Linked DNA regions of Homo sapiens. The protein of the gene in region 1 interacts with the protein of each later gene in a pairwise test. Each region holds a gene or a part of one and is shown in the gene's direction. Other genes may lie near its edges. The genes, in order: RBP5 and AGR2.

The links.
Region 2: the proteins of RBP5 (region 1) and AGR2 interact in binary tests that used the Homo sapiens proteins (3 or more experiments, as listed by UniProt).

What each region holds. Positions count from the first base shown.
Region 1 is NC_000012.12:7,124,773-7,133,555, reverse strand, and holds the start of RBP5 (retinol-binding protein 5), read left to right. Parts: upstream 1-4,666; 5' UTR 4,667-4,780; coding exon 4,781-4,853; intron 4,854-5,137; coding exon 5,138-5,316; intron 5,317-5,802; coding exon of another isoform or gene 5,803-5,859; exon of another isoform or gene 5,860-6,057; intron 6,058-8,783. Other genes in the region: CLSTN3 (calsyntenin-3), read right to left, coding at 410-532, 2,844-2,976, 3,760-3,933.
Region 2 is NC_000007.14:16,801,435-16,810,345, reverse strand, and holds the start of AGR2 (anterior gradient protein 2 homolog precursor), read left to right. Parts: upstream 1-5,346; 5' UTR 5,347-5,411; intron 5,412-8,542; 5' UTR 8,543-8,549; coding exon 8,550-8,688; intron 8,689-8,911. UniProt on the Homo sapiens protein: Required for MUC2 post-transcriptional synthesis and secretion. May play a role in the production of mucus by intestinal cells. Proto-oncogene that may play a role in cell migration, cell differentiation and cell growth. Promotes cell adhesion.

The sequences.
Region 1 (8,783 bases):
GGGAGGAGTGAGGCTGCTGTGTCTCCTTCCCCACCCTCAGTCTCCCCACCTGGGGTCCAGCTCCACCTCTCCTCCCAAAGCCCTGTCCCTTCTCCTGTAGGCACAAAAGCATTAATGATCAAACACGCAACTCTAAGCCCAGCTTCCCTGAGCAGCAACCTCCCAGAGCCTCCAGACCTGAGATCTGACAAAATCATGATGTGTTTAACCCTTGCCTGGCCATGTCCTTTTCTGGCATCCTTGACTCAATCTCCATTCTTCAGTGGAGACCATTCCCCTCCTTGAGCCCACTTTTATCTTCCCTTACTTTCTCATCACTCCCAGGACCTTCCCTCCCTCCCTTGCTCTTGGCCCTCCCACCCACTTTTCTCTGTCCTACCCTGCCTTGCCATCCCCCAATCCCAATTACCTGCATAGCGCAGCGGGGCATCCTTGTCCAAGGCAAAGAGTGGTGGATTCAGTAGGACCGTGTTGTCATTCTCCATGACGATGCCCTGGTACTCTGCCTCAATCCATGGCTTGTGCTTGTTGGCTGGCCCCACCCCAGGGAGAGGAGAGGAAGCACCTGTGAGCAGGGCCTCTACTCCCACAACAACCCTTGTTGACCCAGACAACTCACACCCCAGCACCATCACCTTTTCCACCCCCTATAGGAGCACCTTACAGGAGGCGGGTGGTTGAGGACAAGAAATCAGCTACTAAAGGAGTCAGAGGGTCTGCGGGAGGTCATAGCCTTCTCCTATAGCAGGGTAGACAGTTCCCATGGAAACAACCTGCCCTGGGGGTGAAGAGGAGGGGATCACTATCTCCATGGGAACCATGGTCAGGAAGTGGAGAATGTTCTTTAGCGATTTCACGTGCTAGAGAATGGAGACAGGGAACTTCAGGGAGCAGTGGTGGGCTGTGAGAAGGCCCTGGGAAAGGGAAGGGATAGATTAAGGGCAGAATTGAAACTAGAAAAAGATCTAGAAGTTTCCTGAGATCCTGATTGCTTATCCTCCTCCCAACTCATTTCAGTCCTGATCCCTTCACTCTGCACTTCTCCCAGCCAAGCCCCAACTTGAGGCCACTCTCCCAGAACACAGGATGGGGAGAAAGGAGAGAAGTGAAGATATATAGGACAGAGGGAGGGGGCAGAGAGGGGCAGGAATGGAGCAGAGGAATCAATGCTGAGCAACTGGACCCAGCAGAGCCGTCATCCTAAGGGATTATCGGGCTGGCCTAGAAACATGACAAATCCCGTCCCTGCTTCCCACCCCCACACCCAAGAGAACACATTCGAAACCGACACATTTCTATGTCCTCCACAAGACCATCAAACCACATTCCCTGAAACCCACTTTTTATACAGAACTCAATCCCAGTTCTTATCTACCCCATCCCTCTTCCCTTCAACCACCAGCCAATTCAGAATGGATGCGGGACTCATCAGACTCCAAATCTCCCCATCTTCTACCAGATTCAGCCTGGTGAGGGGCTGTGGGGAAGCATATTTCCTCCCCTTCCACATCACCCCCCACCCCAGCCTCCACGCTTGCTCTAATCCCATCATCATGCCAACACCCAGGCTCCCAAAGCACAATCATGAGGCAGAGGGAAACTGAGTCACCAAAAGGAACCTCATCCCCAGTATCTCACGGTGAGCAAGAAACCCTGATTTCCATTCTTTCCTCCAACCACACACCAGCAAGCCTTTGGCATGGGAAGGCTTTCTTACTGATGACCACCATAACCCCTTCCTGAATGCTGAGGAGAAAGCCACAAGATGGTGCACAGGAGGCGGTACAGGAAGTGGCAGGAGGCTAGGAGGCGAGGCTGAGGTCAGAGATGCAGGCAAGGAAGAGAGAGCGGTGGAAGGGCAGGGCTGGGCGCCCTCTGCACAGCTCCCCCTCCCACCCTGCTTGTCTTCCCAGGTCTCTGAGCCTCTGTCTCCTCTCCTCCTGGCCCCCTGCGGTCTCTGCGTTTGCTCCCTTTCACTCCTAGGCTCCCGGGCTCCTCCTTGACTCACTCTTTTCCTGATTTTCCTCATTCCTCCCTCTTTTTTCTGCCTCCACCTTTACCCTTTTCCATCCCCTCCTTACCCCCTCCCACGCCTCATCTCCGGTCTTCTCCTTCTCAGCTTTCCCTCTCATACTCATTTAGCGCCCCCCACACACCCACTTCTGCCCTTTCCTGCCAGTCTCCATCCGTTTCCACCTACCTGAGCCCTCTGCCCGCAAGCCCTCCCTCCCGTCCTCCCTCTCCGTCTGTCCGACAGCCCCGCCCAGCTGAATGTATCCGCTGTCTGCCAGAGAGGGCAGCTCTGGTAACCCACAGCCCAGCTGATGCAGGCAAAAGGGTCTGAATGCAGAGGCACACGCAAAAAACATACGTGCTCCGAATTGCTGAACTGCAGCAAATACTTTCTCCCCAGGATGGGATGGAGGCGAAGCAGATGGATCTGCCACACACCCTTAGCATGCGCCAGTGAAAGGGAGAGCCGCGGGGAGAGGCCTATCACCGGCTCGGGGGCAGTCCTTCCCAGACCCGAGGTAGCCACCAGCGTGTAGAAATTAGGGGAAGGGGAGAATAGAGACCCCAGGACGGGAATGGAGACCAAATGGGAGCAAGATGACCAGCAAGAGAAACGCATGGGTAGAGATGGACCAGAAAGGAAGATGTAGCTGGGGGAAGAGAAAGAGAGGAGACGGAGCAGGTCTGAGAACGGATGGGAAGGAGGGTGATCAGAAGAGGGCCAGACACCTGTCAGGTGCCAGGGAGCCTCGACACCTCCTTCCCACCCCCACCCCGCACGGCGCTGCCCGACGCCCCTCTTTCGGTACCCCCACCCCCACCTCACTCACCTTTGTTACAGGAGCAGGACGCGAGCAGAGAGGCCAGCAGAAGGGGCAGCAGCAGGAGGGTCATGGTGCGGCGTGGGGCAGGGCAGGGCCAGGCGTTTGCCTCCCCTGGGAGCCTCCAGCCTGCGGATTCCACCTTGCGGGAGGGATACAGGGGGTCTCCAAGGAGCGGGGTACAGCAGGGCAGGGACGGAAAGGAGCCTGCCGCCCACACTAGTCCATAAAGCGGGCCTGGGCAGATCCCAATCTGGGTAGCTGAGGCGGTGGACTTGCAGCGGCTTCCCGTTTCCCCCAGCCCAGCGTCCTCACTCTCTCACTCCCACCCCAACCCCGCTACTGCAGGATGACGTCAGCACAGCCGGGCAACGATTGATGGGGCCGCCGGCCAATCAGGTGACTGGGAGGGGGGGGGACCAGGTGCTGCAGCGGGGGAGGGAGCCAATGAGACTGGGGCGTCGGGGCTGGAGAGTTTCAAGGCTCCTTCCCCTGGCTGCAATTTTGGGGGAGCCGAGGAACTGCGGGGGCTGGGGAGGAAGCTGGAGAGCCACGGAGGGGGTGGGAAAGAAGAGGGACGTGGGGAGAAAGAAGCCAGAAGCCAGGGGGTGGGGAAGAGAGACGTCAGCGGGACCTGAGGGCGGCCAGGAGGGGTGGCACCGCGTCACCCCGCCCCCCAACTCTGCCATAACCTGTTTCCACAGCCCCTTCCATCCACAGATCCGTGCTGCGTGCCCTCTGGGAAGGGTGAAGTAAAACCCTCAGTCTGAGCCTGAGAAATCCTGGCATTTGTAGCCCAGGGCTGCGAGGAAGCCACAGGGCGGTCCGCAGGGCGGTATCGAGGCTCTGGGACCCAAGGAGGGGCAGGACGTCGTGCACCCCTCGCGCACGCACCTGTCGGGACCGGCCGCCTCCTCCTGCCTACCTGTCCTGCCTCCTTCGCCCCGAATTTCACCTTAAACCATGATGAACCAAGCCCAGTGGATTCTGAAGCCCGGGACGATGGCAGGTTCGAGAGAGAATTGGGCAGCTGGGGGCGGGGCACAATATTATTTAGGCGCCTCCACCCCACCTTCACAGAAATACATCTGGAAAGCATGGGCTGTCCTAGGGCTGGGGACTGGGGGTTACGGTCTCATCGATGACTCAGAGGGAGAGAAAACCCCCTGGGTCCCAAGCCAAAAAGAATAAAATTCTCCAGAATAGCCAACAAACTCCTCTCAGGCTGTCTGTTCCGGACTTTGAACTCAGCACCCCTCGGGCTCCACCTCCCTCCTAATGGCTCTTTAGGACCAAGAGTCTGGAATGCCACTTTGGGGTCCCAGTTGAGCACACTACCTGAGGGAGCTCTGAGAGCCAGGCCTACAGGGTGCTCTTCATGGTGGCAGCTGGCCATCCTCACCCCCTCCCCTCACATCTTCCAACATCACTCAGTCCCAGGATCTCAGGATATTGTTGGAACTCATCTCCACCTCACACAGCCAGACCAGCCTCAGGTGTCTCCCAGGAAAGACTGCCCCTCAGGCCCTGGGACGGTTCCCAAGCCTGCCAGAAATGAGGTGGAGGCCAACACTGACCTTTGGATGGCTGAGTTTTGGATGACTGACAGCCCCAGATCCTGCTCCAGGTTCCTTCCTCAGGAAGGATCCTGCTCCAGGTTCCTTCCTCAGGAAAAGCCAAGGTCAGGCGCAACTTTGCCAAATCCCTGCCCCTCCTTCAGGCTGGAGACACCACCCCCAAACTCACCATGCGGGGAGGGAAGAAGTCTGGTAGGGACTCTTATTGCAACAGGGCCCCAGCCTTATAAAAAGCCCTGGTAACCCGGCCATTACACATCCTGTCTCTGTGTGTGGAGCTGGCTGGAATCTCTCAGCCTCACCTGCCAGACAACACCCCCTCCTTCCTCACCCTGTCTCCTGCATTCTCCTGAAACCTTCATCCACACAATGCCTCCCAACCTCACTGGCTACTACCGCTTTGTCTCGCAGAAGAACATGGAGGACTACCTGCAAGCCCTAAGTAATGGCCTCGCCCTCCCAGACCCCTGTCACTCCCTTTCTCCCCTCTTCCTTCCTGCTTCTTGGTCCCATGGAGAAGAGGGAATGCCCGGGGTTGGACACTGTGGAAAGGCTCAGGCGGCTGGCACCAGACCTGGGATCCATTTCTAACCAGGCATTGGTAGGAGGGGGTGAATCCACAGTCCCAGACCCAAAGAAGGGAAACTCACAGCCCTGAGGGGCTGCTGCAGGCAGAGGAGCTCCTGGCTGGCTAGCAGCACCCCTACTAACAGGCAGCCCCCACAGACATCAGCTTGGCTGTGCGGAAGATCGCGCTGCTGCTGAAGCCGGACAAGGAGATCGAACACCAGGGCAACCACATGACGGTGAGGACGCTCAGCACCTTCCGAAACTACACTGTGCAGTTTGATGTGGGAGTGGAGTTTGAGGAGGACCTCAGGAGCGTGGACGGACGAAAATGCCAGGTACATTTCCCCTGGCTGGGCGGTGGCCGGAAGGAGGCATCACAGGAGACTCCTAACAACATGGGGCAAAACAAAGTGACCTTCCCCAGCCAGAGCAGCGGGGAGGAGGGGAATGGTCACCACAGCAGGGAATGCAGTCCCCAGGATACCAGTCTCCAGAACTAACAGGTCCTGGTGCTCCCTGTCTCTCTCCCACTTCTTCCCTGCCCCCTCTTATCACCAGCCCAAAGGGCAAAGAACAGGCCAACCCAGACCGAAGAGCAAACATTTGCCCACCCTCCAGCCTGTGACACTGTTGGTCACCCAGAGTCCCTTTTACTTTAGCATCAATAACTTCACTCTCCTGCATTTCTTTCTACTTCTTACATATTCCTTCTTAGCCTCCTTTGCAGATCCTAGTCCTCCTATTAATCCTTTAAACTGGAGTTTTCTCCGCAGAGTTTTGTTCTTAATGTCTTCTCCCTTTTGTCTGCCCACTATCCATAGGCTAAATCATCTACACCCATGCCTTCTGCTTCCATCTATAGGCTGCCCTTGGCATGAATTCTCCAGCCAGAGCCATCTCCTGAGCTCCAGGGCAATGTTTTCAACTGCCTACAAAATACAGTTGGCCCTCCATATTCATGGGTTCTGCATCCACAGCTTCAGCAAACTGCAAATGGAAAAATATTTGGGAAAAATAAAAATAAAAAATAACAATACAAAATGATACAAATAAAAAACAATACAGTATAGCAACTATTTACAGAGCATGTACATTGCATTAGGTATTATAAGTAATCTAGAGATGATTTAAAGCATATGGGAAAAGGCTGGGCGTGGTGGCTCACACCCATAATCCCAAGACTTTGGGAGGCTGAGGCAGGCAGATCACTTGAGGCCAGGAGTTCAAGACCAGCCTGGCCAACATGGTGAAACCTCATCTCTACTAAAAATACATAAATTAGGCCAGGTGCAGTGGCTCACACCTGTAATCCCAGTACTTTGGGAGGCCAAGGCGGGCGGATCACCTGAGGTCAAGAGTTCGAGACCAGCCTGACCAACATGGAGAAACCCCATCTCTACTAAAAATACAAAAAATTAGGCAGGCATGGTGGCGCATGCCTGTAATCCCAGCTACTCAGGAGGCTGAGGCAGAAGAATCACTTGAACCTGGGAGGCAGAGGTTGCAGTGAGCCAAGATCGCACCACTGCACTCCAGCCTGGGCAACAAGAGCGAAATTCTATCTCAAAAAAAAAAAAAAAAAAAAATACAAAAGTACAAAAATTAGCCGGGCATGGTGGCGCATGCCTGTAATCCCAGCTACTTGGGAGGCTGAGGCAGGAGAATTACTTGAACCCGGGAGCCAGAGGTTGCAGTGAGCCAAGATCATGCCATTGCATTCTAGTCTGGGTGACAGAGCAAGACTCTGTATCAAAATGATAATAATAAAGTACACAGGGGGATGTATGTAGTTTCTCTACAGATACTAAGCCATTTTATTCAGCAGATTTAGTGAGGTGGGGGTCCTGGAACCAATTTCCATTTGAATGCCAAGGTCAAATTCAAATTCACTGTCTTCCTATCCAAACCTACCCCACTTTTATATCTACTCTCTCCACTAATGGCAATAACCAGCCAGGCCAGAGACCTGGGAGTCATGGTCAATATCTCTTGTTTCCTTACCTCTAGGCTCCCAGCACACACACACACACACACACACACACACACACACACACACACACACACCACCACCACCACCACCACCACATCTAATCGGCCAAGAAATCTTTGTAGCTTTTCTGCATTACCCAGTATAGCAGCTGCTAACTTCAGATGGCCGTTGAATACTTGAAATATAACTAGTCCAAATCTAGATGCTGTAAGTGGACTTTCAGACAATGCCAAATAAAAAGAAGCATTTCGGAAATGTTTATATTGGCTGCATGCCGAAATAATAATATTTTGAATATTTTTGGTTAACTAAAATATATTATTTAAATTAATTTCCCCTATTTCTCTTTACTTTTCTAATATGGCTCCTGACCCATTTTATTTCTGTTGAGCATCACTCTTCTAAATGGCTCTCCTGTGTTCCCTCCTAACCTTTCTCTATCACCACCCTAATTCAGGCCTTCATTTCCTGGTGCCTGAAATTGCTTTTTTGTGTTTTTGTGTTTTTTTTTTTTTGGTAGAGGTGGGGTCTCACTGTGTTGCCCAGGCTGGTCTCAAACTCTTGACTTCAAGTGATTCTCCCGCCTCAGCCTCCCAAATGCTGAGATTACGGGCCTAAGCCACTGCACCCAGCTGGTTCTCACGCTTAACCCTCCTCTAATCTGCATGCTGTAGCCACAGGGTCTACTTAAAACATAAATGTGATCATGTCACTCTCTGACTTACACCCTTTCAGTGATGATCTATTACATTACATCATCTGTTACACTTAACTCAGCATACAAGGGTCTCTGTGAATCAACTCTTCAATTGCCTCCACCACATATACTCTAGGTTAGAGCCCTTCAGAACTAATTGCCTTTCTCTTTTACCGCTATTTCTAGCTGTTTCTTTCCTTGCTAGAAATTTCCCATTCTCTCCAATCTAATTAACTCCCAACTTCCTTAAAGATTTCACTCTGCCCGCCCCACTGCCATCCCTCACTCTTGCCTGGTGTCACAGTTACCTATTTACTGATCCTCTATCTCTTCAAGACTCTGAGCTCCTTGTTTGGGGCCTATCCTAAAGGAGAACTCAATAAAGGTTGATTGGAATGCTCAGGCCCAGAGGGGCTGACCCTTTATTTCTAAGGATACTTCAGCTGTTCTTGAAACCGAGAAAGAGGAGAAATGAGATTACCTGGTAGGATTCCCAACCAATCTCTCTTTTTTCTCAAAAGTCCCTCTAGGTCAGCCAGAAGTATCCAGAGGAAAAAGTCTCCATTCTTCATAAATGCCCTCCCCAATTTCACCTCTACTTATCCTGCTACCACCCCTGCTCTCCCCTAAAGGTCACTGTAGACAACTTTGGGCCCCCCTCGGTGACCTTTAGGAGTGGAAAGCTGGGTGTGATGGTTCATGCCTATAGTCACAGCACTTTAGGAAGCGGTGGCGGGCGGATCACTTGAGCTCAGGAGTTTAAGTCCAGCCTGGCCAACATGGAGAAACCCTGTCTCTACTAAAAATACAAAAATTAACCCGGTATGTTGGTGCACGCCTGTAATCCCAGCTACTCTGGTAGCTGAGGCATGAGATTCACTTGAACCCAGGAGGCAGAGGTTGCAGTGAGCCGAGATCCTGCCACTGCACTCCAGCCTGGGTGACAGAGCAAGAACTTGTCTCAAAAAAACACAAAAAACAAAGAGTAGGGTGGAAAGGGAGTCCTGCTGAATCAGAGCAGCTCCCTCGCTCAGTGGAGGGGCTGCAGCAGACAGTATCTGCTGTGGAGTAAAAGGGGGAGCCCATTCAGAGTGAGATGGGAAGCATTTTGAGTG
Region 2 (8,911 bases), on another chromosome or scaffold:
GAGACTAGGATTCCTTCCAGCTTAGTACAGGGTATAAAATTTCTGCTCACCAGGAAGAAAGATTAGATTATGCTGTAAAACAAGTGTGGAGAGTTACATGCCAAATCTCAAGCTGTGGGCTCCTTGAGAATGGCTAAGCATAGAAACTTGAACACAAGAGCAAACGTTTGAGGGTTTATAAATCCCTCAAAGAGATCCTAGGATTGGGTTCAGTATATAAGTGAACCCTCTGAAGTAACTGTAAAATTTTGCATATGCCTATATATGTGTATCTTACCTGCAGATAAATTCAATAGATTTCATCATCCAGATCATGTAACTTATTGTCCAAATCATGGTACTTTTGAGAATGAAAGAAGACATTCTCAATTATTATACCCAGCAACAGGCTTAAACTGAGGCTCTCCTGGGCAAACTGAGAAGTATAATCACCTCATTCATGACCCCAAAAGGTAATACACTACTGCACCAGAACACTTAGCTTTTCATTATTTCAACCCAAGAACCCTTCATGAATTTTCGTTTAAAGCCACTGATTTTTATACAATCAGTGTATTCTCCTAGTGTCTAGTTACAAGTCTCGCCGCATTTGGCACCAGTTGTTGCCTTGAGATTTGTAGCTCCTACTGGACTTGGATCCAGGGCTATGACACTATCCTGCCTGTCCTCACACTTTATACTTTCTGTGCTCTGCAAGTATTTCTTTTCCTCACTCCTAAATGGACAATCATTACCAAAGTTGTATGCTGGTCCTTTTGCTCTATACTTTCCCGCAAGAAACACATCTAATTGTATGACATTAAGTTTAACATATCAATGACTGGTTCTCAGCCTTTGACACATATCATGGTCCCAAACTTTAGACCCAGGAACCTTCATCCACCCAAGCAGTAAATCTGCTCCTCCATCACTAGTCTCAGGAAAGAATACAAAGAAGAGTAAAGCTGATAAGCTTACTCAAAGAAAGGTTTTGCTAATTATGTTTGCAAATCTGCTCTGTTGGGCATTTAGAAAGTTTAAGAGAATTAGATATATAAGTACAGTTTAAACTATTTTTAACAATTTCATTACTGGATATCAATTAAAACTCCAGAAACTCTAAACCATTCTGTGCACAAAAGCCCAATTCAGAAATTAAAATAAATTCAAATGGTAACCAAGTTTTCCTCTGTCAAAACACAAATTTTTATGTGTCCATTTCTCTAAGCTAGAGTTAGGGAGAATTTATTCAGCTATTTGGTCAGCAGTTAGATATGTTTTTGACAAGTCTTCTCTGAGGCAAACCCTTTGAGTACAAGAAGTCATTTGCACTTCCCTCTGCATAAGGCTCATAATAATTCAGTAATGTGGAATTCTATGCATCTACAGGCTTATCTCATTATTTCCTGACATCAGAAGGCAGCCTGATGGACTGAAAGAAATACTGGATTAATTATCACCAACTATGGAAAATTTTAGATCTTCTCTCTGTTCATCAATTTTGTGGCTTTGCGCTAATTATGTCCACTCACCTGAGCCTTTTTACTTTTTTAAAAGAAAATAATGAAGTCTGGTGAGATTGTTATAATGACAAATGAATATTTCCAATGAATATATGTGAAAAGTTTAAGACTTGTGATAGGCTATAATCAAAGGGTAATCCAACAAAGATTCTGCTGTCATAGACTGAGACCTAAATGATCATAATACAGAGAAGTAATACATTCTGTATTACTAACTAATATTTTTGAGTGCTTACTATGTGTTATGTACCATTCTAAGCACTTTATGTCTATTATCTTATGTAATCTTCCACAGATCCTATATAGTAAAAAAGTAGGGATAGGAAGACCTACAAGTGAGACAACTAAAGCACAGAGAAGTTAAGTAAGTTGCCTGGATTAGTAGAGTATGTAACAGTCAGGAAACTTGATTCAAACTCGAACCTATCTGAATCTACAGCTTGCCCTCTTAACCCTCACATGCTTCCTCTTGAGGGTAAAGTCTAAACTTAGAATGGCATTAAAGGCCCAGGCAAATAGCCCCAAAACACCCCTCCAACCCTATTGTCTATGAGCTACCCAGATGTCTCTCACTTCAGCTAGGCTCGTCCTTAAATATCCCACAAATATATTTTGCAAATTCTATATCACCGTCTCTATTTGGAAATCTTGCTTTCTGCCGTCAAGTTGAGCACTCTAGTAGGTAGCAATCTCTACTCTCTCTGAAAAATAATCACACCTGACGTCTATCCCACTTACTTGTTTCTTGTTGCGTGCCATTCTCATGTGAATGGCTAATTTTTAGTGTTGTTCCATCTTAATTCTTCAATCAGATCGTAAGTAACCTTAGAGTAGAAACAGTGTTGTAAACTGCTACATGTTTTCCCCATAGCATGGCCCATCACTCCGAATTGCAATTATCTATGTGTGTGTCTGGCTACCTCAATAACTGACCATCATTTTTTCATTTTTATATATTTAATGCCTGGCACAATATTTGCTACATAAACAGAGTTGATGAATACTTGGTGAAGAAAATAAATGAATGAGTAAATGAAACACAAGAGTTAGCTACTCATGCATGCTAGATTACACAATAATTGCCAGTTATAAGTCTCCTGTTTTAACTCAAAAATAGGATATAATCCACTTTAAAATATGCTTGAATATGGATGCAGCTGGAGGTCATTATCCTAATCAAATTAATGCAGAAATGGAAAACCAAACACCACATGTTCTCACTTAGTAGTAGCTAAACATTAGGTACACATGGGCACAAAGATGGGACCCATAGACACTGTGGACCCCAAAAGGGTAGAGGAAAAGAAGGGAGAAAGGGCTGAAAAACTACCTATTGGGCGCTATGCTCACTACCTGGGTGATGGGATCAATCGTACCCCAAACCTTAGCATCACGCAATATACCCATGTAACAAACCTGCACATGTACCCCCTAAATTTAAAAGTTGAATTTAAAAATATAAAATAAAATATGCTTGAATAAATGCCTCTAAAATTATAATGTAATAAACATTTAAAACACAAAGGTATAATATCCACTTAATTACAACCATTGTTATAGGATCCCTGGTACCAAGCTTAGTTTTACTTACTATAATATTAGACCGGTATATCAAATTATCAAATCCTACTTCAGGAAGTCCTACTCAGGTATTATCCAAAATATCTACCTGATAGCGACATATTTTTACAGTATCAGGCAAACCTGAAGGACTGATCACATGGCATCACTGTTAAAAGTGATGAAGTTTAATAGCATAAAACAAAAACCCCTCCTTTGCTTGTCTCAAAGCATACTATATGTACCATCTACAGAACCCTAGTTACCTCACACCAAGACAGATATGCCAAAGATTCCACAGCCTCAATAGCATGTGTAGGATATCTGCTAATAATTACCTCCTCCTTGCCATCCGTCAGCCACTATGACAAACTCTGGGTTTTTCCCGACATGAGATTAGGCACATGAGTATAGAATAATTATATCACTATAATTAACTGTAACAAATCAAAGACTTTTTTTTTTAAGTTCCGGAGTATGTGTGTAGGATGTGCAGGTTTGTTCCATCAGTAAACGTGTGCCATGGTGGTTTGCTGCACTGATCAACCCAACAACTAGGTCTTAAGCCAGCCTGCATTAGCTACTTTTATCAAATGTTATGGGCTGAATTGTGTCCCCCCCAAAAATTCATATGTTGAAGTCTTAATCCCCAGGACTTCAGAATAGGATCTTTACAGAGGTAATTAAGTTAAAGTAGGTCATTAGGCAGGACCCAAATACAATATGACTGGTGTCCTTATAAGAAAAGGAAAAAAATGACACAGACAGGTACAGAGGGAAAAACCATGTGGCAATACAGGGAAAAGTCATTTAATATTCAAAATGGTCCCGTATGTTAATATTATCCCCATATTATAGATGGAGAAACTGAAGTTTTGGGGATGTTAAATGAGATCTCAGATCATCCTATGAGCAAGCACCAGGATGCAGGATTCAGATGGGAATCTCGTGACTCCAAATCCCATCCACTTGTTACTTTCAGTGGATAAGGGACTGAAGGACTTTGGTCCCAACTCTGCCCTAAACTAGTTGTGAGACCTTCAAAAAGTTATGAATTTTTTGCCATCTTCATTTATTCATCTGTAAAATGAAAGACTGGAATTGAATATTACAAGGGTCTATCTAAGGGCCTGCTAGTTTTAAGAATTTTGCTCAAATCATCGTTTTCAAACTCCTGAAGAAATTACTTCTATAAATTCATTAGAATTGAAAGGAAATTCAGTATTTGGAGAATCACGATTTTGCCCACAGAATTCAAGGATTTATTGGAAAAATATACATACTTGCAAATGTTTTTGAAATATTATGACCTTAACTCATTTTAAAAAGTCATTTATATAGGGCTTGCATCCCATTCATTAACTTTCTGTTGTTAACATTTTCTTCATTCTGAGCTTTTAAAGACTGCACACAACTTCATGAACAAAATACAGGATTAAAATTTTCTGACAGAAAATTTAAATTCCAGTTTTAAAATCTTCAGGGAGTAATTAAATGGTCTTGAGGGGAAAAAAAACTTGGTTGCAGACCTTAGTTTTTAGGTCTGAGAAAATGGAGTAAATGGCTTCCTGCTTGCGTGGCAGGAAAGTTTGCCTTTAAATAAGAGATTATCTGTGAAATACCTTTGAACTCTGTGGAGGGAAGTTGCTGCATACATTCAATGGCAAGGCATTTATTACAAGCTCACGATATTAGGCTGTTTTTTTTTTTTTTTTTTGCCAATACTTCCTCAGTTTTGAAAAATTACGTGGGTTACTTGATTTGTATTTTTTTTCATACCTGTAGAAGTTAGGGTGCATTGTTTTGACAGGAGCAGGGAAGTATTGTAGAAAATAATTTTTATCATAATGGAGTATGGCAGGTTATATGACTGCGAGGATCAGAATTGTGAATCATCTCTTGTGTGTCTTCAAGTAAATAAAGGCAATCTGCCCACGGAGCAGAAAAAAAATCTACAAACTACAAACTCTGTCCAATCATGTAAAGACAAATCAGCCTTCAGGCAAATCAAATGTCTTCATTCAAAGTCTACCTGGATTTGGCACTCTGCCCATCGTTTCAAAACCTCTTAACAATACGTTTCACAAATAGTTAAAAACATGCATACTGAAAAGCATACTTTTGCAATGTTATTTTTAAAAACAAGGAACTCTTTAACCCAGGGAAGATAATCACTTGGGGAAAGGAAGGTTCGTTTCTGAGTTAGCAACAAGTAAATGCAGCACTAGTGGGTGGGATTGAGGTATGCCCTGGTGCATAAATAGAGACTCAGCTGTGCTGGCACACTCAGAAGCTTGGACCGCATCCTAGCCGCCGACTCACACAAGGCAGGTGGGTGAGGAAATCCAGGTAAGGCTCCTGACAGCAGCTTTAGAAGGGTACTTGCTGGAGTGAATTCGGGCCTCTGATTGCTATATAAAGTTGTAGGCAATCAAGCAACAGAGAACTGCAAGTTTCCAAAGGCAATGAAGTAGGATACGGAAGGGAAATCATGGAATTTCCACAAAAGTCTTACTGGGGCCTTTCTTTGGCTAGAGCTGGCACAGTGTGACGTTCCCGAGTTAGTTCAGAGAAATGCTTTCTCTTTTGCGAAACAAAATTTCCAAGAGTAGGTGAATCCTAGGATTTTTCAAGCCTGGGACAGGGTCCAGGGATTTTCGTCTCAGTCACCATCTAAAGCTTTCTTTCCCACGGGCTAAAGCAAAGCCCCATAGGCTTCTCCACTATGACACCTCAGCTCGGATTGCCCGCTTGGAATATATTATTGCAAATCAGAAAACAGTTTTCTTTCTCTTTTTGCTGCAAAGACATTCTTGTTGCCTCTGCAATCTTTAAATTCATGGGATAGGCTATTAGAGGAGAGAGCTGGTTGCTTTCCTGAAGCATCTACAAATAGGGACACTAAAATGTCTTGCAAGTTCATTATTTGCTAAAGACAAGAAGACAGGGATACGGTGATGAGTAAAAAGTGCTGGCTTCACATAATGTGTGTGTGTGTGTGTGTGTGTGTGTGTGTACCTATGTCTGTGTGTGTCTCCAAATTATCAATATTTTCCATGGAATTGTGTTTTGAGGTGGTTTATGCAGGAAATTTGCAGAGCAGAATCTATTCACATTACGAAAACTCAGTGGAGTGAATCTCAGAAAGTCACCCCACAGCAGGATGTTTGTACAGCAGGAGTTATGTTAGCCTTCCTTGAGTCATCCTGCCGTAAAACACAAGCAATATATCAATAGTTCCAACCTGTGATCTTTGGAGATACTGCAAGGTCCTAATAGCTACTTGGAAAACAAGAACTGTAAATGGGCTAAGTAAATAAAAATGCCTTACCATCAATTTACTATTTTTTAGAATATATATAGATGCTGTTATAAATAAAAGATAAAATCAAATGTTTGTTGATAGATTCAAAGAAATTATTTGCCATATGTTTCTGAACCAGCCAGTATTCCAAATGTATAATTATTCTCATGTAAAAGTTCTTGATTTTTTTAACATTACAAAGAAGTCTTTATACAAAGAGGGCTGAGAATTGTTGACTTACAGTGAACACTTAGGTTGTTTTTGCAAAACTCTAGAAGACAAAAGTTATTGGCATTTCCACATCTTTGTAGGTATAGAAAATGAACAAAGTATATCCCTGATTTTTGCTTACATCTTTTCTGAGTAAGACATTTTGTGCTTACATACTATGGATTAGTTAATCATTGGTCAGTTAAATACAAAACATCATTTCGATCTGGTAGCTTAGCAACACTTAAAAAAAAATCAGCTAATGCTTAGCAAAGGTTTCCACTCAAGATATTAGATTATGAAAAACTTCCTGCTTAACAATAGTAATTCCTTGCAGAGTTTATTTGACTTCATTCAAAACCATTCACCAATACTAGAGTTAGGTGCCGGGGTTTCATATTTCCTTTTTAGCACTTTTAGTGTTTGGTTTTATCAGAATCCCAAATCTCCAGCCTTCCATGTTACGGCCCCGTGGACAACCTTAGTGACTTGCTAGAGCAACTCACTTTGCTCCCTCCCTCCCTCCTCACTCACAAAACTTATCTTGCCATGTACTTTCCTTTTCATAGGCTTTAGTTTTTCCTGGGAATCAACTGTGGCATACCAGAAAGAAAAAGTAATTTAACTAAGATATCAGCTAGGCGTGGTGGCTCACTCCTGTAATCCCAGCACTTTCGGAGGCCAAGGCAGGAGGATCACTTGAGGTCAGGAGTTTGAGACCAGCCTGGGCAGCATGACAAAACTCCATCTCTACTAAAAAATACAAAAGCATAGCCAAGTATGCTGGCACGTGCCTGTAGCCCCAGCTCCTTGGGAGGCTGAGGAGGGAGGATCACTTGAACCCAGGAGGTGGAGGTTGCAGTGAGCCACGATTGTGCCACTGTACTCCAGCCTGGGCAACACAGTGAGCCCTTGTCTCCAAAAAAAGTAAATGTAAATTTTCTTAGCTACTAGAGTATGTATATCTATTTTCTCAAAATATATCTCTATTTATCTATTTCTATATAGATATATATATCTATATAGATAACTCTATATCTATAGAGATCTATATCTTTTTGTCTTTATCTATGTGGATCAATAGACAGCTATCCATACTATATACAAACAGTCCCAACTTACAGAAGTTTGACTTAATTTTTTGACTTTATGATGGTGCAAAAGCAATACACATTCAGTAGAAACTGTATTTCAAGTATCCATATAACCATTCTGGTTTTTACTTCCAATAGAGTATTCATAAAAATTACTTGAGATATTTAACACTTTACTATAAAATGGGCTTTGTGTTGGATGGCTTTTCCCAACTTTAGGCTAATGTGAGTGTTCTGAGCACATTTACGGTAGGTTCAGCTGTGGTGTTCAGTGGGTTAGGTGTATTACGGTAGTTCCCCCATTATCTGTGGGGGTTATGGTCCATGACCCTCAGTGGATGCCTGAAACCGCACATTAGTACCAAACACTACATATGCTATGTTTTTTCCTATGCATACATATCTATGATAAAGTTGAAATTATAAATTAAGCACAATAAGAGATTAATAAGAGCTAATAATAAAACAGAACAATTACAACAGTATCTTATAATAAAAGTTAGGTGAATTTGGTCTCTCTCTCAAAATATCTTATTGCACTGTGCTCACTTATTTTGGACGCGGTTGACCGTGGTTAGCTGAAACCGCAGAAAGTAAAACCCTGGGAAAGGAGAGACTACTCTGGATGCATTTTGACTTGCAATATTTTCAGTTTACAATGGGTTTATTGGAACATTACTCAATTGTAAGTCAAAGACCACCTGTATTCTTAGGAAAATCCCATGGAACAGAGCTATTTACGCCAATCTCGTATGTCCAGTCTCAGCAGAGCCTCAGTTTCTGGTATATTCCACCGTTGTGGGGCAACCTGCAGACCCTGAAGACTGCTAGTTCAATTTTGTTTACTGATTTTGGTTGGTTTTCCATACTAGAGTTGCCATGGAGAAAATTCCAGTGTCAGCATTCTTGCTCCTTGTGGCCCTCTCCTACACTCTGGCCAGAGATACCACAGTCAAACCTGGAGCCAAAAAGGACACAAAGGACTCTCGACCCAAACTGCCCCAGACCCTCTCCAGAGGTAGGAGTCAGCTTCTTGTTGGCTTCCAACTGCTACTTAATTGGAAAAGATTTCCTCTCTCTTGGTGCTTAAACCTGGTTCTAACCTGGTGCCAGGTTATTTTTGGTTGTGTTCCTTCTAGACTTATCACTGTTTATAATTATTTCTACTTTCTCCAGGGGTTTTTCTTCTTCTTTAGTATAGGGTCTATTATCCCAGTCTTTACCATTGCTTTTCAACAGCT